Homo sapiens: one gene and its partner. The protein of the gene in region 2 interacts with the protein of the main gene of each other region in a pairwise test. Each region holds a gene or a part of one and is shown on either strand. Other genes may lie near its edges.

Region 1 (13,157 bases), on a different chromosome or scaffold from region 2:
AACTGTTTAGGTTCTGATATGTTGAAATTATTCTTACTGTCATTCCAGGTGTTTCACATCAGAAATACGTGTGTGTATATGTACATATATACACACACATACATACATATTTCTTTTTTTTGAGACAGAGTCTTGTTCTGTTGCCCAGGCTGGAGTGCAATGGCACAATCTTGGCTCACTGCAACCTCCGCCTCCTGAGTTCAAATGATTCTCCTGGCTCAGCCCCCTGGGCAGCTGAGATTACACACATGCGCCACCACACCTGGCTAATTTTGTGTTTTTAGTAGAGACGGGGTTTCGCCACGTTGGCCCGGCTGGTCTCGAACCCCTGACCTCAGGTGATCCACCCATCTTGGCTTCCCAAACTGCTTGGATTATAGGCATGAGCCACCGTGCCCAGCCTAGACAATTTTTTATATTCTCCAGATACCTTTCTACATGCAGAATTCTGTACTGTCTTGTACACATGAATAGACCATAAAATGTAATATAAACAAACATAAAATCCTAAAAATATATTTCAAAGTTTTAAGAAGTCCACTGAAAATTTTAAAAATATTTTCTAAGAGCAAAGGAAAAGAATACAGTAGTATTAATAGTAGTAGTATAGAGGCATTGGCAGTAATAAGCTTATCACACTTGCTATGCGCCAGGGACTTCTGTGAACAATTACTCATTAAAAACAAAGCCACACTTATGAGATAGGTATCATTGTTACCCTCACTTATTGATGAAAAAATTGAGACACGGAAAGGTTAATAACAATGATGTAATTTATACAATCCCTAATTTATAAAATCACTGATTCTAGGGAGAAAGTGCCTAATCACACTGCTCTCGCAAATGAAAAACTTAGCCTTTTTCAAGAAAAATATCTCACTCATCAAATATAACTGATGAAAATGTTTAATGTAAGAAATGACACTAAAAGCATTTTTATTCTAATCTGAGAATTCTTTTTTATGCAAAAGTGTTACTAAAACTAAATCAATGGGAAAATGATTCAAGGCACAAAAATATGATATACCAGAGATCATTTAAGGACTATTTCCCTAGCATACAACAAGGGATATCTGTTTACATTAAATATAAGCATAAACACGACAGTCTTGGTTTTCAAGCATCTCAATAATGTCTTTTTTTGAGACAAGGTGTCACTCTGTCGCCCAGGCTGGAGAACCTCAGCCTCCCAATTAGCTGACACTACAGACACAGGCCAGCACACCCAGATAACTTTCTATTTTCTTGTAGAGACAGGGTTTCATCATGTTGCCCAGGCTGCTGTCAGAACTCCTGAGCTCAAATGATCTGCCACCTCAGCCTCCCAAAGTGCTGGCATTATAGGTGTTAGCCATCACACCTAGCCAATGTCTTCTTTTAATATAAGAAATAGTACTGTGTTTAACAAAAATTCTGATTTGGGCCATAAAGGGAAAGCGAAATATTTACATCATTATTTATTTAAGAAACTTCATGTTTCTAGAGAAAACTATTTCTACCTAATACTGAAAGCTTGGTAGGAAGACATAAAATAATTTGCTCTAAAAGCAAAAGACACATCTAAGAAAAAAGCAAAATCCCTGAAATCCAGCTTTCCTAACACTGATCATTATCATTTTTTTCTTAAAAGAAGAAAGTAATTTTAAGCTCATCTTCATGATTTTTCAGACAAACTCTCTGTATTTTTACTTTACTTCCTAATTCATTACCTTTTCAAAGAACTTGGGCCAGTCGCTGCTGTGGATGTTTCTTAAATTCCCTCTGTCTTCAATCTTGTAGTGCCTGATTTTCTGGTCTTCAAGCCAAACGATGAAGTTTCTAAATTCTGTTTCATCTGCAATAAAAAATATCACATAAATAACTAGAAGCACTACATAAAATACCTCCTTCTCAGGTATATGTTCAGATATATGTTCTTGTGGAATTTTCTTAACTTCAAAATACTAAATTAATTGAACCAAAAGAGGGAGTTGAAAGTACAGATTCTGGAGTTGAAAGTACAGATTAACAATGATCTGTTCAAATCCTGGGTCCAGATACTTACTGGTTGTGTGAACTTGGGATAATCACCCACATTTTCTGTGCCTCAGACTCTTCAGCTACAAAATGAGGGTGCTAATAGAACTTACCTCATAGAGTTATGAAGATTAAAAGAAGTTGTTTTATTTAAGAAGTTTCTTAAATAAAATAAATACGGATAAAAACAGTGCCTGGCACATAGTTTTGCTATTTAAGTGTTACATATTAATATTCCAGTTCCTTTGCGGACAGAAAGGGGAAGGAGGGCAAGGTTAAATTTATAGCAAAGTAATAAAGTAAAATATACAACAAAATAATAAGTAAAAGAAATTAAATGACAAAAAAGACACTGTGACAACTGTTGTCATGGAATGTTAACTGCACATTAAGTGCATAATTGTTTCGTTTAATCCTCCCCATACCTCTTTTGAGGTAGGTAATATCCCATTTTACAGATAAGAACATTGAGACTCAAAGATTCCAATCCAGAACAAGGCTCTATTGTCACTGATACTTTTTTGTTAAAGTAGAAAAACAATAGATTATAATTTGATATGCTTCTACAGGCGATCAACAAAACACTGTCATCCTGCTTAGAAATTATTTTCAATTTGTGAGTCAAATTCAAGCTTCCATTATAAGGTCTTGAGAATTACACAGTGGTCTGAGTATCACAAGTTATACTTGATCACTTTCAAACTTACCAGTCTATCACAGGCCACAACTATACAAAGGAAACGAGTAGTGGTGGGTAGCAGTTTAGTTACAGTGAGTAGCAACGTTATTACTTTTTAAAATTCTAATGCTGTAAAATCCCAAATACCTTTGTATTCACAATTCAACCTTCCCACTCATCTGCTATTAACTTTTTTGCAACACCACATAACACAACTAGCCCGTTACTACACGCGCTTACCCTCCCACTGTGATCGGTCCTGATTTCATTGTGTACTGTCTCAAACTGCTCAGTGGGTTCTGATTGCTTCCACCCCTCGTCCCTTTAGCTCCTGGCAGGCAGTGAACTAGTCTTCAAGTTACTCAGCACCTTCCTCAGAATCCAGCACCGCGCTGGCCCATAATTAGCAGGTGCTCAAGGTATCGCCTAATTACCCAGGGAACCATGGAGTTGAATAGTGAGTGAGAAAGACGAATGCTCTCCCTTTTATGTACAGAGAAGGTAGTTACGTGATGCTTGGAGTTAAGCAAGTGCAGAAAGTAACATGCCGAGACAGGAGTAGGTGAGAGGGCTTTAAAGGCGGGAAGGGGCGGCGAAGAGCCGAGGTACGTGGCGACCCAGAGGAGAGGGGCCCGGAGGCTGCCGGCGGAAACCAGGCCGCCGAGGGTCCCGACGGGGAGGTGGGGTGCGGGCACTGAGGCTGGGACCTCCGCCCAGGTCAGGGACACGCGGCCGGGCTGAGGCCGCCGCCTCACCTTTGCAGTTGAAGCCGGCGGGGTTGTGGTAGTCGAGAGCCGTCAACTTGCGTCGGAACATGGTCCCCGCTTCTCGCTCTGGTCCCCCGGGCCTCGGCCGGGAGAGAAGAAGCGAGGTGGAGCGGGAGGCGCAGGCACCGGCGACGCGGCGAGAGGGCGGGCAGGCGCTGAGTCGCTCCGAAATGACGGCGGCCTTCGCCAATCGTGGCTTAAAAGCGGTGGCCGCCGGCAAATGCCCACCAATCGCGGCTCCGGCTGGGGAGGCGGGGCCACGTCGGCGCACGTCGACGCTCAAATAAACTTTATTGTCAGCTTCCTGGTTGTACAATAGGCAGAAAACCACCGGGAAGCCACTTTCCTTTCTTTCTTGCTATAGCATGCAGAGAATAGTATATGTAGGCTTTTGGTATTCGCTGTACCTCCCGTTGGATTACAGAATTACTGTTTAGTGTTTTGAGTGCATTCATTCATTTTATTACTCCTCCTACATAACAGGTGCTCTTCTAACACTGGTAATACAAAGACTACAAAGCAAGGTCCCTATAGTAAGATGCTTTCAGACTAATTGGGAGTGATCCACAGGTAAACATACAATTGTTAATACGATGCGATCGTTCCAGATATCCTCAGCCAGAGTGAAATCTGAAGCCGAGATCGTCCCTCACTCCCCCTCACCCTCGGTCACAGCATCCAGTAGGTCACCAATTCCTGCCATTCTGTCTCTCCTAACTCTCAAATCCCTCACCTCCTTTCGGACCCCACTGATACAGCCACAGATCAGATCCTCATCACTTTTGCTTACTCTAATTATCTGATTGATTTCTTAGGGCCAGTCCTGCGTTCTCCAAACCATTCCTCCATACAGCGATGAGAGAGATTTTTCTAAAGCAAAAACCTGTACATAACTTTCTCTGCTTATGTTTTAGTGGTTCCTGGTTACCCCCTAGAAATAATCAAAACTCCTTATTGTATTTAAGATCTTTCCTGATCCAGTCTCTACTTGCTTTTCAGACAGTGGAGAGAGAGCAGTGAACAAGACAGACCAGGCCCCTATTTTCATGGAGTTTAAAAGGCTAATGAGGGAAACAATAAACAGATAAGTATAAACTAAGGCTTGAAGATGGTGAGGCATTCACCATGCAGTCAAAAGGGTAACCTAGTTTGAGGGAAGAGGATGTATAAAGGCAAGAAATGAGCAACAGCATGGCCCAGAGGGACTAGAGCTTATAGGGGCTGGAGGGTGAGAGGGAATGACAGCTGATAAGACTATAGACAAAGGCAGGGCTCTGATAAGGAAAAGCCTCTCATGGCAAGCTAAGGGGAGCTATTGAAATTCTTGGGGGTAAGCCAACTATGTACGTTTCATTTCATTTCATTAATTAAGATTTTAATTAAACACTTAGGATCTGAGGAGCATACAAATGAGTAAACTACAGTCTCTATTTTCAGGAAGTTTAAGTATAATGACAAATATAGATGTGTAAATAAATACTTATAATCTGGAGTTAGAAAGAGTAAGTGAATTACAAGAAATATAAAATGTACTACAAAGAAGTACAGGCCAGGTGCAGAAGCTCATGCCTGTAGTCCCAGCACTTTGGGAGGCTGAGGTGGGAGGATAGTTCAAGCCCAGGAGTTTGAGACCAGCCTAGGCAACATAGTGAGACTTTGTCTCTATTAAAACTAAAAAAAAAAAAAAAAGAAGAAAGAAAAATTAGCCTGGCATGCTCGTGTGTGCCTGTGGACCCAGCTACTCAGGAGGCTGAGGTGGGAGGATCACTTGAGCCTGCAAGGTTGAGGCTGCAGTGAGCCATGATCACACCAACCTGTGCAACATGTAAGACCCCATCTCAAAAATAATAATAATAAAAAGAAGTACAGAGGCTAGAATACAGCTTTAGTTTTAAGGGGGCACTGTAAGATAATCTGTATTTTTCAATTAAGGTGCTTATAGAGTGAATCAAGAAAATCAGTTCAAGAGTGTCTCATTTCCAACAAAATTTGATCAAAGATATGGCTATAATCTCATATTGTAGTGCATGCTAGTTGTATAATTAATGAAATACTAACCAAAAAATGAAAAAATGAACCAATCATGGAAGGGAAAATAATAAATACTTACATATAAATAATAAATTAAAAAGGGGGAAAAATACAATTGCAGACCATGAATTTCTTTAAAAAAATAAGGAAAAACATCTCTTACCATTTGTTTTCTGAAATTGACCTTTCAAGGCAAAAAATGAAGTTGTTTGCTCCTGGCCTAGTCTTTCCACTTCAGGGTCCCCATTGTCAGCAACTTAAGACTGTCCCTAGTCATCAGCCCCGGCCACCACCAGGAGTGGGGAGGTTGGAGGAAGATTCAGATGATGCAGAATGCTAAAGTGTCAGGGGATACTTGAGCAGGGGATAAAGCAAACTTTGGGAAAGAAGTATAAAATAAATATTAATCCATTTTTTATGTTAAAACCCAGTTATCTTTTTTTTTCTCTGAATTTGAAGGAGTTCTTTGACCTATTCTGAATGGAGTGTCCAACAGTAAGTGAATCTTACATAATTCCATTTCTGAAGACCAAGCCCTCTGTATACTTCAAGAAAAGGAAACCAACTTTTGTGTGTGTGTGTTTTCATAAGTACCCAGTGTTTAGCTCCCACTTATAAGTGAGAACCTGTGGTATTTGGTTGTCTGTTCCTGTGTTAATTTGCTTAGGATAACGGCCTCCAGCTGCATCCATATTGCTGCAAATTTGGACATAATATTTGTTCTTTTTATGGCTGCATAGTATTCCATGGGGTATATGTACCATATTTTCTTTATCCAGTCAGCCTCTGATGGGCATCTAGGTTGATTCCACGTCTTTGCTATTGTGAACAGTGCTGCAATGAACATGAGAATGCATGTGTCTTTTTGGTGGAAGGATCTGGAAATCAACTTTTATTATCAAATGACCTGAACTCCAATCTAATGGTTGATCATAGGTTTGACAGGCTATTAATTCATCTGTTGAATTGTTCAGTAAAGTGTTTAGAGTGTCAATTACATGCCAGGCAATCTTGTAGGCATTTTGGAGTCATCTGAGAGCTTAAACACAACAACCCTGACCTCAGGGAGCTTATCATTGGGCAAGGGAAGACAAACAGTACAATAATAAATAAATACATTATTTACTATTCAGAAGGTTCTAAGTACTATAGGAAAATTATAACAAGGTAAGGGGGGCAACAAATAGCGGTGGGGATATAATGGGTGTTGCAGTTTTAGACAAGATGGTCAGGTTGGGCCTCATTGAGACAGTGAAGTGTAAGGAAAGCCTAGAAGGAGGTAAGGAAGTTAGCCACACAAATATCTGGGGAAAGAGATTTCTAGATGGAGTACTCAAAAAAAAAAAAACCAAGATAAGAATGGTTTTTATATTTTTAAATGGTTGAAAAATCAAAAGAATAATAATATTTTATGACATGTGAAAGCTATATAAAATTCAAATTTCAGTGTACATAAATAAAGTTGTATTGGAACACAGCCATGCCCATTTGCTAACTGGCTGCTTTGGTGCTACAAGGGCAGAGTTGAATAAATGCAACATAGACCACATGACTCACAAAACCTAAAATATTTGCAAGGGCATATATGGTTGCAGAAATGTAGAGGTGGCCATTTCAACGGTATTGCCAGGGCAACACATTATCAAGAAAGGCAACCAGTCAGAGGTAAAAGTTGCTCTTTGAAGGACAGTTTCACAACTTGTAACAACTTTTAAAGTCTTGGCAGTTTTACTAGAAGCCTTTGTTCAAATTAGTCTTCCGAAAACAGTGAACAGAACAAGTTGGTAATAACCAGGAATAGCCACAAAAGTCTCTACAGTGCACAGAAAAACAGGTTTTATATTCTAATGAATGTTATCAATTGAACACCCCATGAAATCAGAATTTTTGGAACAAGTTGTATAATGCAGAAAGGTCTCTCTCCCTGGGGGAGCCTCCCGATGAGCAAACATCTCCTTTATCTCTTTCTGAGACTCTTTATGTTAAATATGAAAACTTGCTGCTTTTTAAGGTCAAGCTCTGGAATTTCATGATTTAGCATTAAAAGCAAAATGGCAGGGCAGTAGAACTCAATTTTATTGGTAGAAAACGAATAGGAATGAATAGGAATTTATGTAGTCATGCAAACAGCATAAAGCATTCACCTTCCACATCTAATACTGCAGAGGAAACACTTGCCGAACAGTGAAAACAACACAGAGGACAATACAGCCAAGAAGCACAGACAGGCCATTCCCAAAAATGTCTGGTAGGGGGCTAGATGCAACTTTCCTGAGATGTGATCCAATAAAATCTATTTTATACTTGAGCCAGATTTGGTTGGGGTTTTGTAACTTACAACTGAATAGTTCTAACATGAGGACAGATCCCAGAGAGAAAGGAAAGAAAGATCCACGGACTTGGTGGGACTAAACATAGGATGGGAAGGAGGTGGATGGCTTAAAGGAGGTTTCTAGAAGGTCACCTATCAGAGATGTGATAAGCAGTGAATTCTTGCATAGAAACAGGAGCACCGGTAGAAGGAAACCAGTCTGAGGAAGCTGAAGAATTAAGTTCTGCACCTGTTGAAATCGAAGTCCTGTAGATGTAGCCCATAATCACTACTGAAATGTCAGGAATGAATGTGAGTGAGTGGATGAGATGTCCATTGAGGAGCCATCAGCATAAAGTTGTAGATGGAAACTGTTACAGTAAGGTCCCTGAGGAGACGGGGAAAGAAAAGAGGACTGAAGACTTCATCCTAGGAAAACCCAGTATTCATATTTAAGGAGTAGGAGGAAGAGTCATGGAATATGGGAAAAGTGGTTGGAAGGACTAAGAGAACAAGGAATATACAGCGTCCTAAAACGTGGAGAGGAAGGGGTTTAGGGAGGCAGGGTTGGGGGCAGAGTAACAGGGATCAACATTTGGGTGATAGGATTATGTGGATTCTTCCCCCAAAAGTGACAGAAAAGCCACCTCTGAATGCTTGAAAGCCGGTAATGAATAAGGCAGAGGTTATGGTGTCATATGATATTGACCAGCATACAGTCAAATTTAGATCACCTACTTTACAGATCTCCCATGCATATTCCTGTTCTCTCTTCCCTTTCCCTAGTACCTCAGTGACCCCCACCAGGCAGAGCTGCTAACTGAGATGCCTGCAAAGGCCTGACCTTTCCCTTTGTTTCAAATTCTTGAGAACTAGTCTTTCTCCAAGATGCTAGGAATTAGGGGCTGCTACTGCAGGGACCTTAGAGGGCTGGGAAATCTCATTCCTCAGAAATCCTTTGACCAACTTGTAGAAGGTATTGTCTTGACAGCTGAGTGCCAAACAGCACGCTTTACTTTAGGTTCAGACTTGCCAGGGTTCCAAAACCACAGCACTGAGTTCAGCCTGCCAGCTGAAGAAGGGGCAGGGGATGGTGAACTCCTACAGATTTGCCCTGATCCTGCCATGGCTCTCAGACCTGTGAACATTTTAAGTAAAAGTCTCTTTTGATGAAGAATACAAGATATTCTATCTTCTACTTCAAAGTCTGACACAACTATTGTGTGTTCATGACATACGTATTAGGCCACTCACACATTGCTATAAAAATAGTTGAGATTGGGTAATTTATAAAAAAAAGAAGGTTTAATTAGCTCACGGTTCTGCATGTACAGGAAGCATGGTGCTGGCATCTGCTAGGCTTCTGGAGAGGCCTCAGGAAACTTACAATCATGGCAGAAGGGGAAGTGGGAGCAGGCGTGTCCCATGGCCAGAACAGGAGCAAGAAAGAGAGAGAGTGGGGAGGTGGAACACACTTAAATGACCTGATCTCGTGAGAACTCACTCCACTGTCATGAGGACGGTACCAAGGAGATAGTGCTAAAGCATCCATGAGAAATTTGCCCTTATGATTCAGTGGCCTCCTATCAGACCCCACCTCCAACACTGAGGATTACAATTCAACGTGAAACTTGGGCGGGGACAACATCCAAACTATATCAACATCTAAAGGCCTAGGTAGCTCACAATGAGTCAGTTAAGGAGGATGTCCGACCTGGGTAAAGAGCGAGGGTGGAGAACATTCATTCATTCATTCAGCATGTGCTATGTACCATGGTGGACACTCAGGATATAATGATGAAGACAGACATGATCCTCCCCTTCATGGAGGTTACAGCCCAACAGGGAGGCAGGAAACAGCAAGGCAAAGGAGATGGAGGTAAACAGAAAGGGACCTACGTTAGATAGGGTGGTCAGAGGAGGCCTCATGGAGGAGGTTACATCTAAGCCAGCTATCAAATATGAGCTATTACCGGATTTCCCAATGGGGAAAGGGCAGAGCATGAACAAAAGCATGAGCACAAAGGCCCCTTGTCAGCAAGGGTTTGCTTCTGTGAAACTGAAGGAAGATCAGGGAGGTAGGAGGGTGGTGAGCCGGGGGTTGGGTGTACTGTTGTTAAGTGAGGAGGGAGGCCATGGTGTGGAGTATGGACTTTATTCCATGTGCATCAGAAAGCCACTGAAGGTTTTAAGCAGGAGTGACAAGCTGTGGCTTGGGTTGTAAGATCTTTCTGGGTACTGTGTGGAGAATACAAGGGAGCTGGTGGAGAGTGAGAAGCTGGGAGACCAGTTTAGGAAGCCATCGCAGTGGTGAGGTGAGTGGGAACGGTGAATGTCAGAAGCTGTTGCATTGTCTGGTGTAGCATAATGGATTGGGGGGATTATCCTTTGCAAATTACACTTTACTCTCTTTTCAGCCATTATTGTGGGTGATTGAGACTCATCCGTATGAACTATTCACCTTCGTACCTCCCGTTTACAACTCAGCATTGCTGGAAGAGCTGAACAGCCGCATGGATCATTTTTCAATTATAGAAAAACAAATTCTAAGCCTGAGAGAAAAAGTGCATGAGAAAGAAAGGGAGGAATATAGCTGCTAGCAGACAAGACATATACTTCCCAGCTCCACCACTGTGACTCTTTTAATTCAAAGAGATTTTTCAATTTTCCAGTGAGATTCTGGCCTCAATTCCTGTCCTAGGCTCAGAAAAAGCACAATAGTTTCTTTATACATCTTTTCTTTTAAAAAGCTCCCTGGAAAATATTGTAAATATGCTACTATATTGAGGTTTGATAATAAAGGGAAAAATTTTGCTCTTTATACCCATTTCTACTTGAACACCTTGTTTCTCTTTATTTCTCATGTTTGCTGGGTCATTCCTACTTTAGCGTTGGCGAGTAAGAGCAGCAGCCTCCTGGGAATTTAGTGCTCGGTATCTAATATTCAGTGCTGGGTGTGGGTGTTAGCAAATGCTAGGGAAAAGAAATCTCTGTCATCCTTCCCTTTCCAGCTGTAATCACGTAGAGTTTCCCTAGTGGCATTGGTGGAACCTGAGACCTGACCTCATTGGTCCCACTAATGACTAGGTAGGAATAAATAATTTAGATTGTTAATGAGGGTTTGAGCTATTTCCCCAATGAGCCCAACTTTCCGGCAGCCTCAGACTTTAGAGCTCAGTGGAGTATGTTTCTAAAGCTGCTGCCATTTTCACACCCTTTCCTCACAGTTAGGAAATAGTTGGAATTTGGTTTTTAAAAAAAGTATGGATCTCCTGGAGATGGGCAGTCTTTGATAGCACCCTGGGAAGTAAAGTCTGTCCTAGGCTGTTCATTCATTCCAGGCATTGCTAAGGGAAGTAATACAAAACAGACCACACATGGGAACCTAATTTCTGATTTGAACTTCTTTTCCACACAATTTATAAGTTAAATCACCGTCAATCTGTGATGAATCCATTATGATCTCCTTTTTCAGGAGTTGTGCCTAAATTTGGGGGTACTTCTGACATGCCAAGGAATGAGTGGTAGTTAGCAGATCACTTCCACGTCCTTGTAGACCCACATTGGTGTCCCCTGGGCCATTCTCATCTCTATCCACTCTTTGGTTCTTGGTGCACAGGTTTACAGGTTCTCTGTGTCAGGGCTGTACTGCTCTTAGTCATACAGGAAACTCCCACTGCTCCCACACTATCCAAGTGACAAGAGCTCCATCGCCTCAGGAGCCCGGGGGACACTGATCCTCTGCCACAGTGTGGCCTGTGAAGCTGGGCAGCTCAGCCTCATCTGCTTACCTAAAGGATGGCAAACATGGACCCACCTCTCTGCACTGCAGCATGCTTTCAACACATGAACTTCTGGAGGATGTTCAAACCACAGCAACTCCTTTTGGGGATCTCATAGACCAATGGTTCTCAGTGCTGGTCCCTTGAGTGGCAGCAACAGCATCACCTGAAACTTGTTAGAATTGCACATTCTCCAGCCCCAGCCCAGGCTTACTGAATCTGAAGCCATAGGGTTGGGCCAGCAATCTGTGTTTTAACAAGCCCTACAGGTGACTCTGATGTGCTCAAGATTGAGAACAGCTGTCGCAGAGAACTTTGTGGGTTTCATTGTGCTGACTTCTACACACGAATTCCTAACTTGGGCCCATTCCTGGGCCACTGCTCTGTCCTTCCTCCCTTCAGGACCATTCATTTGTTTCTGCTCAACCCCTGAGACCTTAGCAACAGCCCAGGCAGACCCCTGCTTCTGCAGCCTGCACAGCAGGATCCCCCGAGAGGCAGCCTTCATTTGGAACAATTTCTTTCCCACTCCTGTTTCCCAACCTTTCGGGCATTGAGTTGACTAAATTCGGAGTAAGAAATAGGCCAAATCCTCTGTTCCACAAAAACTAATTACCTTCTCTGTCCTCCTCGGTCCTACTCTGTGAGGTGGGGGAGTTCTTTTCCTTCCTTTCTCAAGCACATTCCTCTGTGTTGTCCATGGCCCTCTCCACTGGGCAGGTGGCCCCGAGACGTTGGGACAAGCTCATGTCCCAAGATAGTTTTCTGGCTCCTCTGACAATCTCTGGCCCTAGAGAGAGAAGCATAGGAACATTGAAGCTGGCCAGCTTTCATCAGCCACTGATGCTGCAGCATAAGCATCACAGTTTTCCCTTGGGGGTGTGTACCTCTACTCTTGATTTATGCTCTTTCCTTTGGTTATTTTAGCTTTTCCAGGGATTTTCCATGCCTTCCTCTTTCTCCCTGCCTAAACATGAGTATAAACCCACTTGTTCAATCCCCACCTCTCAGAGAAGCTCCAATTTTGCATTTCTTGGGCTAGCCCCATTCTCTACCTCACAGCCAACATGGCTAAAAGTCAATATTTCACCCTCCACAATAAACCCCCTTGTTCTCTTGCATTTCCCTTGATCCTTTCCCAGCCTAGTGAGTTCCCATCACCCTTTGAATCTCAGTTTTGACTTCAACCATGTGCAGGTTTCCCTGACTTTTCCCCACATCCAACCAAGCCTGGGCACTGTCCACTGTGCACCTTCAGTAGCTTTTTAATGTGGGCCTCTGCAGAGCTCCTCCCCAGCTGGGGCAGGATCCCAAGGGTCTGTCTCTCATTCACTTTGCACCTTCCAGCCTAACATAGATGCTCATGTCAAACCAGTATCGTAGCAGCCTAGAAAGATCATCCCTTTTCCTAGTGGACTACCTTATAGCTGCAGAGCTGCCATGTCCAAACATACTGAAAGAGGTATAAACACACTTCCAGTCACCCCTAACAAAGCTGGAAGCCCAGAGCGGGCCCAACATTTTGTACTAAGTCACCAGGGCAATGGCTACACTCACATCCTATTCACAAT
Region 2 (12,201 bases):
TCCACTGTCTGCACTGCTAGCTCGGGGTCCTCCAATCCCAACACCCCTAGGCCTGCCCAGTGCTCCCTGCAGGCGAGCTACCCGCAGCGTTTGTCAGTCATGCGTGTCATTGTCTGGGCTCTGATTTTCGCCACCCCCACTCCCCGAGCTTCTCTCCTCGCTTCATCCTCCTGCCCTACCCCTTAACCCCTCAACTCTAAAGGTTGCCAAAGTTGATTCTGCTTTCCTACTTGTTCTCCAAATTTCCTACTCCCATCTTGAGCCCCTCCTCCTACCCCACCCCACTTCTCTCAAAATTTCTCCTTTGCCCAGTCATCTCTGCATGCACCCAGGCTTCGCTAAGCCACTTGTATGGGCGCTGCATCTGTTCCGCTGGCCAGCTCGCTTGTGCATCTAACCTATCACCACGTCCCTGGGAACCACCAGCAGTTTGCTTTGACTCTGTGATACTCTGCCTCGTTGAGCCCCATTAGACCAGGGTCGTCTTCACCCACGAAGAACCTGCGTATTTGTTTTGCATTGTGTCTCTCCTTCTCCTGATATTTATTCAACCATAATTCATCAGTATCTAGAAGCTGGAAATAGGGTTTGTTATCTCACTGGGTCACCCAGATCAGTGTACTCTATTAAACTTGAGAACGTGGACCCTCTTGGGCTAAATGTGGTTCCAGAAACAAATTGTATGGTTAGATACTTACCTACAGGTACGGTATCAAAACAAAGTACAGATTTAGCTAGCTGTATTTCTAAGTAACAAGTTCTTTATCAAAATTTTCTCTTAGGTTTTTCCATGACAAGGAAACCTTTGAGAGAAACCTTTCTTTAGGAAAAAACACCTTGAGGATTCCCAAAGTCTGCCTATTTGAATAATTTACTACCCTAGTAGAAATTTTTAGGAACGAAGTAGTCTTGCTTATCATCTGTCTTTGTCACAGTGAAATACTATTGTTCTTTTCTTGGAAACTTGCTCTGAATTTTTATAAATATTCCAGACTTTAGGGGGCTTCTTTCTTTCATTAGGGCATATGTTAAAGTCATTCAGCAAAATAGTCTCTTTAGTTGACATCTCAGACTGAATCGCTTGTTCACACATGAAACCATTCATTCATTAGGACTTTTTTAGGAACAGTTTCTTTGTGGCAGTGTTAGGCCCTTAGAGTACAAGGTGAGGTGGAAGAGGGGTTCACAGGATACTGGGAAAATATGCTGTGAGGAGCCCTGAGGAGGGTCCCTTTACTGGGAAAGGAAATGAAATCCTAGAAGCTTCTTTCTGGAATAAATGACACTATAGTACTGTAGTGGAATGAGTGGAATGAAAGGAAGGGGGTAGACCTTATTAAATGTAGTCTTTCTGCATGGATAGTGGTCACTTAAGAATTGGCCACGGATGCTGTTTCTTCCCATTATTGTCTTTTTTTTTCCCCCTCCTTTTTTTAACTTTTTATTCTTTTGGGTACTGTACAAGTAATTGTTACTGTAGTAATTGTAATCACATAACTACTTGACATAGAGTGTAATGTAAACCATGGATTTTCTGAAAACTGTTATAAATTTTAACCTTAACTACTTAGTTTGGTGGCATTCAAATATTAAAAGTCAGCCTTAATTAACTGAAATGTACTTTTAAAGGATTAACTGAGAAATATTAGAATTAAATGACTACCTTTTCTATTTATTTATTTATTAAGAGATGAGGTCTTGCTCTGGTGACCAGGCTGGTCTCGAACTCCTAGCCTCAAGCGATCCTCCCACTTCAGGCTCCGGAGTAGCTGGGACTACAGGTGTATGCCACTGATCCTGGCAAATAGTCATCTTTTATCTCTTACCTGGCACACAGTAGGAATTCAGTAACTACTTGTTGAATAAACTAATGAAGTCTAAATGTGAAACTCAAGGAGAAACTTCTAGGCCTAGTCTTTTGATTTCAGTGTCTAATAATACATAGTTTATAAATCTAGATGCCAGACTACATGTGATCTCATTTTTTTATGTATGATTTGTTTTCATTTTGTTGCATATACTGTATAAACCTATAATCATATTTTAAAGGGTTTGAGAACTGTCATTTCTCTAACATACCTGTAGTTCTCAACATTATATTATCTTTTTTTTTTTTTTTTTTTGATACGGAGTCTTGCTCTGTCGCCCAGGCTGGAGTGCAGTAGTGCGATCTCGGCTAACTGCAAGCTCTGCCTCCTGGATTCAAGCCATTCTCCTGCCTCAGCCTCCTGAGTAGCTGAGACTACAGGCGCCCTCCACCATGCCTGGTTAATTTTTTTGTATTTTTATTAGAGATGGGGTTTCATCGTGTTAGCCAGGATCGTCTTGGTCTCCTGACCTCGTGATCCACCTGCCTCGGCCTCCCAAAGTGCTGGGATTACAGGCGTGAGCCACCACGCCTGGCCTAAACATTATATTATCTTAAGCATATTTATTGTATCATCTTAAGTAAGCATTATTATCAATATTTAAGAGAATGTAAAGCAATCTGAATAATATGTATTTAAGATTACTTGGAGTGACAGAAATCTTATATTTTAGAATATTGGTGATTGGAGTTCATTATGACTGTCATCTTTTATGAATGTTTGAACATTTTTAAATTTTTTAAAATTATATTGGAATCACTTACAAAGGATTAGGATTCAGATGCGCCAGTTCATTAACTGCCAATATTTATTAACCTAACCTGACGTTTCTTTGGTACTAGAATGTCTTACTAGTCTTAACTGGCATTAAATTTATAAAAATGATATAAATGGTTAACTGGAAAGTTTTTACTTTTAAAGGAAGTCATTAAAAACCTAACTAAGCCTGGGCAACATAGTAAGACCCCTGGCTATTTTATAAAAAATAAAAAAAAAGCCAGGTTTGGTGGCTTGTGCCTTCACTGCACTTCAGCCTATGTGACAGTGCAAGACCTCATCTCAAAATAAAAACATAATCTAGTTGTTTTCTGGAAAATTTTTAGAAAAGATAACCTAAGTTTTATTTCTGAAATAAGTTACAGTATAATTAGCTATTACTTGTTAATTTGCTTTTAATACTCAATTCAATTACAGTAAGAAAATAAATCTTTTTACAATGGAAGCTTTTAGTAAATGTACAGAAGTTGACATAATTTAGTAGTATATGCAATTCTGTTAGATATTCACCTACATTTTGAAAGGTTGAAATGCAGCTACCATTTAGCTGCTTTTTGTAATGGTTCAGTATAGTTCTAAATTATGTTTATATTTGTCCATTTAAAATAAAGATAAGTACTAACTTATCTTTATTAAATTATTGCTTATATAAATAAGACATAGATATGTTTTATCTGTAATATATTAGGTATGATTGTATTTTCTTCTGAAATGTAATTTCTTGCTCACCAGTTACAAGGGCCCATTGTTGGAAGATGGAGCGCTCTCTCAGGCAGTCTCTGCTGGAGCCAGTTCCCCCGAGTTTACCAAACTCTGTGCTTGGCTGGTGTCTGAATTAAGAGTGCTCTGTAAACTAGAGGAAAACGTGCAAGCAACTAACAGTAAGTAAACATTCACTTTTAGGTACAAAGTATAAAAATAACATTGAGGTATTGTCAACTGAACATTATCAATACTAAAGCTGAAAGTTGCAAGTTTTTGTAAATGTAAAAAATTTGTAAAGAAGCCAAGATTTTTTTTCCGTCCGTTGTTTTTAGAGGTGATTCAGAAGTTGAAATACCAGAATAAAGTCATGTAACTTAAAAATTCGTGGATGCTGAAAAGACCCTATTACTGGGATACAGAGAAATGGAGACCACAAGCATAGAATGTATGAACTTCCTATATTTTGTAAGATGTTAAATGTAAGATCCTAGATTGATGGCTAGAACTAGATACTGGGATATTTTTCTTTTAGGATTACCAGATTCTAGAAGCATCTATAGCATGTAGAGTAAATGCATTATTATTCTGTTATGCTTGGGGAGAAAGAGAACACTTTGTTAAGACATTTTGTTTATCATAAGAATGCATCGTTAGATACATCACAGTGAGATCCAGGACAATCAAATTTATGGATCTGAGAGCTGTTCTGCATTTACCAATTTTGTTTCCACTGTTGCACTAGTTTGTCGACACTGCAAAAGAGGCAAAAGCTTGGAACCTACCACTCTACCATCTGGTTCCTTCCTGCTGTAGGTAAACCTATAATAGGAGACCAAGGAAAATACTCACCTGTTAACCCACCCTTATGGAGAGCTATACATATAATTCCTTTTTTTCCACATAATCACGTTTTGAAGAGCTCACCTTCTTGCATGCTAGTGTGTGTGTGTGTGTGTGTATATATATATGTGTATATATATGTGTGTATATATATATGTGTATATATATGTGTGTATATATATATGTGTATATATATGTGTGTATATATATATGTGTGTATGTATGTGTGTGTGTGTGTGTGTGTGTGTATATATATATATATAATTTTTTTTTTTTTTTTTTTTTTTTTAACTTTATGTTCCGGGATACATGTGTAGAACATGCAGGTTTGTTACATAGGGATACGTGTGCCATGGTGGTTTGCTACACCTATTGACCTGTCCTCTGAGTTCCCTCTCCTCACCCTCTAACCCGCAACAGGCCCTGGTGTGTGTTGTTCCCCTCCCTGTGTCCATGTGTTCTCATTTTTTAACTCCCACTTAGTGGTGAGAACATGTGGTGTTTTTTTTCTGTTCCTGTGTTAGTTTGTGGAGGATGATGGCTTGCATGCTGGTATATTTAATGTGTACGTGTTAGTTGCATTCAGTTCTAATTATTAAGGAGAGTATAGTGTAACAGTAATGATAGCAACAGCTTACATTTATTGTGTACTCACTATGTTCTAAACACTTTATATGTGTTAACTCATTAAACCTCAGGGCAACCCTATGAGGCAGGTTTTATTACTGTTATACCTTTAACAAGAAAGCCCAGAGAATTTAAATACATTGCCTGAGGTCATACAACCTGTAGGGGTGAAGCCTGGTTTCAACCCCAGAACAGTAGTCAAGTTCTGAGCCAGTGTGCTTGAACACTGTGCTATACTGCCTCTTGACCAGATGTTTGAGAGACTGTAGGAACCTTTGAAAACACCAGTACTAGATGATACCTCTATTTAACCTGGAGCCCCTTTTTCTCAAATGAAACATGATACAGAAGCTAACATGTAAAACAGGTTAGAAGGTATTCTAACAAAGTAGAGACGAGGTACCTTTAGCCCAGCTCTTTCCTCCTCATCCTCCCAGCTGCCTCTAAAAGAGCTCTGTGGAACTCAAGGGCTCACAGATCACAGTTTGCAAAATATTCATAATGTAGGCTTCCTGTATTACAGATTAGAAAATGGACTCAGGTGATCAAGTGACTCTCTCAGAGTTTGTTAATTTCTTCCCCTTTGTGATAGTGAATAGAGAACAATCAAAATAATGAAGAAAGAGCTTTGTTTTTCCTTTGGTTCACCCAGTGAACTCTATACCTTTTTTTATATGCTGTGGGAATACAAGACTGTAAGTCATGTTTGCTGTCTTCAAATTTTTTCTAATTGAGAATGTTAGGCACAAATTAAACAACTGGAGATAAGTACAGTCCTTTTGTTTGTTTGTTTTTAGACAAGATCTCACTCTGTCACCCAGGCTGAAGTGCAGTGGCGCGATCTGGGCTCACTGCAACCTCTGCCTCCCAGGTTCAAGCAATTCTCCAGGTCAGCCTCCTTAGTAGCTGGGACTACAGGCATGTGCCACGACAACTGGCTGATTTTTGTTATTTTTCTTAGAGACGGGGTTTTGCCACGTTACTCAGGCTGGTCTCGAACTCCTGAACTCAAACCATCCACTCGTCTCGGCCTTCCAAAGTGCTGGAATTACAGGCATGAGCCACCGTGCCCGGCCAAGTACAGTACTTAAATGCTGAACCACTTTGTGGTTCACAGAGAGAGGAAATCAGCAAGTACGAGGGTGAAGTTTCAGCCAAGTACAAGGAAGGTTTCATCAAGGAGCAAGGCCACTGGGCTTTGATGGATGGGTGGGATTTGCTAGAGGGGAAGAGAGTAGAGGACATATCTGTCACAGGGAATAACTTAAATGAAGGCACAGAGTGGAAATAAGACTGGCTATTCATGGGACAGTGAGGAGACTGGCCTGGCACACACAGGAAATATTTGTGGAGGGAATGTAGGTGATTATAGCTGAATATGCTAGGAAGAACAAACCTAAGCAGCTATGAAGAATCTTTAAAAGCAGACAGAAAAAAATCAGATTGGATGAGGGAGAAATTAGGGAACCATTAAAGACTCCCAAATAAGAGAATGACCTAATGAACACTGAGAAAGAAAATTTTAGATTGGGAGCAGTGGCTCATGCCTGTAGTAATCCCAGCACTTGAAGACGCCAAGGTGGGAAGATAACTTGAGGCCAGGAGTTTGACACTAACCTAGACAACATACTGAGACCTAGTCTCTACAAAAGAATTTTCTAAATATTAGCCAGGCATGGTAGCATACACCTGTAGGCCCAGCTATTCCGGAGACTTAAACAGGAGGATCCTTCAAGCCCAGGGGTTTGAGGTTACAGTAAGCCCTGATCACACCACTGCACTCCAGCCTAGGCCTCAGAGACCTTATCTCAAAAAAGAAAAAAAAAGAAGAAACTTTGCAGTGGTGTAAGAAAGGATAAATTAGAAGGGGAAAAAACTCAAGTTATGAAAATCCTATTAACAATTTCAATTATATATAATAATTGTTATGCTAATGGAAAAATAATCACTATCATTAAATAAGATTATTTTAATTCTTAAAAGGTCCGAGTGAAGCTGAAGAATTCCAGCTTGAGGTGAGTGGGCTACTAGGGGAGATGAACTGCCCGTATCTTTCACTGACATCTGGGGATGTGACCAAGCGCCTTCTCATTCAGAAGAACTGCCTCCTCTTGCTCAGTAAGTTCATGGCTACTAGAATATAGCTATTACTTTCTGTTTATGTTTTCCATGACTAATAAACTGACCATGGTTTTTTGTTTGTTTATTTCATTATGAATGTAATTCAAAATTCATTTTAAAATAAAACTTTCTTAAATTTCCAATTTAGGAGCTGAGGGTAGACGTGTGCACTGGTAGCATTATTGTTTTTGTAACTGATACTCTTTCAATATTTCAGCCTCAGTGGTACTCAGGCCGTTGTGCTTCTCCTAATGTGATCACTGGTAGTTTTGGAGTGTTGCTCAAGTGTGTGATCATTAAACTTACATTTTAGACTAGAAGCACATTTTTAAGTATATTAGGAAGATAGTATGGAAATAATGGAGATTTTGTTTAGAAATTCATTTCTTTGAGGAGAGTAAGCATTTATAATAGTAGATACAGTTAATGGTTAATGTAATTTAAAGTATTTTGTCTTGTTGCTATTTCTTTGTGGTTGGGTAATTGGGGATTTTGGTTTTGTTTGTAAATATTCTGGAATAATACTTGCATTGTTCTGGTACTTATTCTGAGAAATGAGTTTTTATGAAAAGTTCTTTCCTTCCATGTTTTTTACATACTTACTACTGTTTTGTCTCTTCACACTGAAAAACAGTAAGTAGATTCAAAAATTTTATTGCCTTCTATAAACTTTCCAATAAATACAACCTATAGTCTTAACTCAGAATTTATGTAGCATTCTGAAGCACATTTACATTAAGCTTTGGTTAACTGGCTATTATAGTTCTCATTATGACAGACAATTCAGAGGATTTTTAAAATCTTTGTTTTTACAACTCTATTATGGTTTCTGAAAAAATTATACAACTTCAGTTTTTAAGGTTCTGTTAAAAAAAAAAAAAGTGTTCATAGCCATTATACTTAGGCACTAAGTTATTCCAGAATCACTTTTGTAACTTCCCCTTTGTCTGTCAAATGATTGTTATTGTGGGAATGTGCACGTAAGGTTAGGTGTTGCTTTAGATACTGATATTGCTGCTGGTAGTTCTTACATATTCATTTAATATTCTTCATATTGTACAATTTCTGTAACTGATTCAATAGCAGTATACTCAGCTGATTCTTCCTTTATAGCATTGCTTATCCTTTACCAATATTTGGCACTTAGAATATGTTATCTACATAGGAAGATAATAGCTGTGTGGAATGCTTACTAATGACCCTGAATAGCTAATTCTTCCAAAGAGCTCAGAGTTTGGCCTTTTTAGCACTGATACTTATACAAACCACTTGAATGTAAGTATAAAATGCCTTTCACACTTTTCTGTTTCTTAAGCAGACTTCAGTGAACATTATTTTGGACTCAGGGTCATAATTCTAGACTTTATTTTAATCTGCTATCATCACCTCAAATGCTTTTCAAGAATATACCACTATTTGCTCTTCAATTAAATGACTAAATCATCTAGAGGTCACTCACTTTTTATATTCTTCATACATACATATATACACACTGTTTCCCTCTTTATCTTTGCTTCTGCCGATTCTCCCTTTCTAAAATATTCTCCCCAGTTTGTAACCTCTCTTTCATTCTAGCATTTACCTACATGTACTCATTTTTGACTTGGTCTATGTAAATATTTCTCATCTTTTGAAGTATCAGTTGTCACATCTGGATGCTATAATTTTACTTTTCCAGCACCCTTACCTCACTAACTTGAATCTTTTATCACATTGTATTTTAGGGGGGAAAACAAACCAGCCTCATTAGAATTGTTGGAAAAATAGAATAGCCTTTGAGTGAGAGGCTGAAAAGCTCTCATGTATCAGATTAAGGACTCTGTTTGGCTCTTCATTGGCCTTTTATGGTTCTCAGAGTGTTGCCCTTACGTAAATTAAGTAAGATGTCTGAGTTCCTAATAGATGAAGAACTATTCATCTTTTATTTTTGCATATACTCTTTATTCCTAACTAGATTATCGGAAGAGGTCATCTTTTTGATGTTTTAAAAAATGTTATCTTCAGTGCCTTTCCCAGTGCTTTGAACATACTGATTACGATTAAAGTTTTTTCATGATAATTATATTGGTAACCTAATTTTGTGAATACCTGAACTATGTTATCCCAAATTTACAGAACCAATATATTAAATCATATAGTATATGATTTTCTAGAACAAGAGTTGGCAAACTTTTTCTAAAAGGGCCAGATAGTAAATATTTTTGGCTTTGTGGCCCTAAGTTCTCTGTCACAACTACATACCTTTGCTGTTACAGCATGAAAGCAGCCATAGACAATATATAAATGAGTGAGTGTGGCAGTGTCCTAATGAAACCTTATGTACAAAAACAGTGGTTGTTGTCTTAACAGTGGGGTTTTACTGTTTTGACGTTTTAACTCATAAATACAGTTTGCTGTATGGAACATGTTAAGATTTTACAGTGTCAAATCCATTTAGAATGACCTTTCCAGAAACTTAGCTGTATTTATTGTTTTAGAACAGGAGTTGGCAGCCTTTCAGAAATGATTTGCCAAAATTATGGCCTCTGTCCTTCTAGCATTACATTTTGGGTATAGGAAATTTGATACACAAGTTGACTTTTTTCTACTTCTAATAGGACCTGAGGGCCTTGAAAATATCTTTTCCCAAAACTGGTTTTGTTATATTGTCAGAAGAATCTCACTTTGTCACATAACCAGAAATCCTAAGATTCAAATGATTCTTAATCATCTTTTATAAAAATTGAAATGTCCTTGGGAATGTTAAAGGAATGAGATTGAATATTTATACCTTCAACTGAATTACCTGAAACAGATTGCAGCCCCCATTATACCAGGCTGAAATCAGCACACAAGGGGATGATACTGACACAAAGGGAACCATGCCAAAAAGTGCTTTGAAGGTTTTATGGTTGTTTTGAAGGGAATGGGGTGAGGAAAGTAGGGGGAAGGGAGTCCTGAGAAGAATATAGATGAAAGAGGGCTCTCTTTGATTAGCCAGAGGGCAACATAAGATTTGGAGACCATGGGAAAGGAGCTCTGGGGTGCCTTCCTGCTTCTCCTGTGAGTTAAGCTTTGACTTCTTATAAATGTTGTTTCACACCTCTTCTGGACAGGCTCCTAATTAATGGGAGACAAGAGAGCAAGGTAGTTGTGTCATTGATGCTCACAAGTAGTGAGAAGTTAAAAAAAAAAAATTAATTGTCATTAAAAATTGGTCACCTGCCTTCTTTTGCAAAATTTTTAACAGATGCCAACCCCTGTTCTGGAGGTTCCTTAATACCAGAATTCAAGATTCCAAATTTTTAGATGTTACTTACCTCGATCCTTCGGTTTCAAAGAGAATCGCTTATTTTAAAATTAACATTTAAACATTATATATCGCTTAAATAACTGAATTACATAACCAGTTTATTTCTTATTTCATTTGCAGGTAAAAGTAGTTTTTCTTTCTTGTTTTTATCCATTCTTGCAGCTTTAACAGTTACATATCAATAGGTCTATATAGTTGTGACTCCAGACTTATGACTATAACTATAGCTGTATCTCATTTTGAAATCTTATTTTGTTTACTTCAGCATACCTCATCTCAGAACTAGAAGCTGCCAGAATGCTCTGTGTGAATGCTCCTCCAAAAAAAGCTCAAGAAGGAGGCGGTAGTGAGGTCTTTCAAGAGTTGAAAGGCATATGTATTGCTCTAGGAATGTCCAAACCTCCAGCCAATATAACTATGTTCCAATTCTTCAGCGGGATTGAAAAAAAAGTAAGACCTTTAGTACCAAATTGTAGTGTATTAAAGGCATAGTCCTACATTTGTTTGAAATGAAGCAATTAATTTAATTTCTCTTAATGGGAACCTAATGTGCATATATTATTAAGTAATTGTTACGAAATGAGTTTTGGGTTTTAAATCCTAGATGCCTTAAAGATAAATTAGTATTTTAGTATTTTCCTAAAAACATGTTAGCATGTTTCTTTTTCAAAAAGGAAACTTTACACTGGTTTGTAAGCTAAAGTAAGCTAGATATAATGTAAAAAGGATTAAGATTTCAGTCCTTTTAAAAATTATTTTATCATTGAACTTTGATACAGTCAATTTAAGTTCTTTATCACTAAATGTTACCACCCTCCTCCCCATTGACTGGACAGAAAGGATATTAATATTTTTGTTTTTTAATCCAGTCACTTCAAACCTCATGCTTCAATTGACAAAATAGATTTGTTGACTGCTAACATAATCTAGTATGTGAAAAGAAATTAGAATTATTTTTATACCACACATTATCAGTTAAGATTTTCTATATAATTAATTAGGAACAAGCAATTTTAACAAAAATGAGTAGAAGAGAACGGTATTTGTTAAAGCACAGTTATTCCCTATACGCTTATCTGCTGGACTCTTAAGAATTGGTACATTTGCATTGTGGGGTAGACCAGCACCATGATGCACAAATTTGGCTGAACTCTACAGGGGAGCAGCAGTGTATCCATAGTCCATATTTTCCTGTGTGTTCATTCATCCATTCAGCAAATGTTCATTGAGTGCCTACTGTTGTCAGGCACTGTTCTAGGTGCAATGAAGGACTTCTGTAGGCGTGAGGAGTGGGACCAGTGAGTGTCTTTATCTTGTGGGTCTTTTACATTTGCATTTCAAAACATCCTCCACCTTTGCCTCTGTCAGGAATCTTCTTTTGATGGCAAGATATGATGGGAATTGGGAAGATGAGGATGTTTTACTTTTAGAGTTTTTATTCATTTATTTATGTTTTTGTGTCAGTTAAAGGAAACATTAGCAAAAGTTCCACCTAATCATGTGGGAAAGCCTTTACTGAAGAAGCCAATGGGACCAGCCCACTGGGTGAGTAGTAATCATCTTGAGTAAACTTTGTAAAGAACTATAGAGTTTATGATTTTCATGTCAACACTTACATTTTGTGCTTTTTAAATTATGTTTTCTTATACATAGTTTTCTAGTTGAACACCCTTAGAATCATTTTGTGAATCTCAGGATTTCTGCAGAATATTTTTATTTGTGTAAGATTAGAAGCACTTTTCTCATACTTTGTAAATATTTCACACAGCTGATAAAAGTAAACTGAAATTAAGTATGGTGCATGTTTCTCGTTGCCAAATGGATTGCCTTCAAGCCAAAAACTTCACTGGGCTGAGCTTCACACAGTAAATTATGGGAAAGATAAATAAGAATTGTGTACTTCACATACTCTTCATTATGTTTTGTGAATCAGCTTTTTGTCACCTATCATTTCATTAATTGTTAGTATAT

Evidence for each region.
Region 1: the proteins of FAM98A (region 2) and RTRAF interact in binary tests that used the Homo sapiens proteins (3 or more experiments, as listed by UniProt).

What each region holds. Positions count from the first base shown.
Region 1 is NC_000014.9:51,979,994-51,993,150, reverse strand, and holds the start of RTRAF (RNA transcription, translation and transport factor protein), read right to left. Parts: upstream 3,606-13,157; 5' UTR 3,512-3,605; coding exon 3,451-3,511; intron 2,633-3,450; exon of another isoform or gene 2,567-2,632; intron 1,835-2,566; coding exon 1,710-1,834; intron 1-1,709. UniProt on the Homo sapiens protein: RNA-binding protein involved in modulation of mRNA transcription by Polymerase II. Component of the tRNA-splicing ligase complex and is required for tRNA ligation.
Region 2 is NC_000002.12:33,586,814-33,599,014, reverse strand, and holds part of FAM98A (protein FAM98A), read left to right. Parts: intron 1-3,377; coding exon 3,378-3,526; intron 3,527-6,800; coding exon 6,801-6,935; intron 6,936-10,495; coding exon 10,496-10,680; intron 10,681-11,694; coding exon 11,695-11,775; intron 11,776-12,201. UniProt on the Homo sapiens protein: Positively stimulates PRMT1-induced protein arginine methylation. Involved in skeletal homeostasis. Positively regulates lysosome peripheral distribution and ruffled border formation in osteoclasts.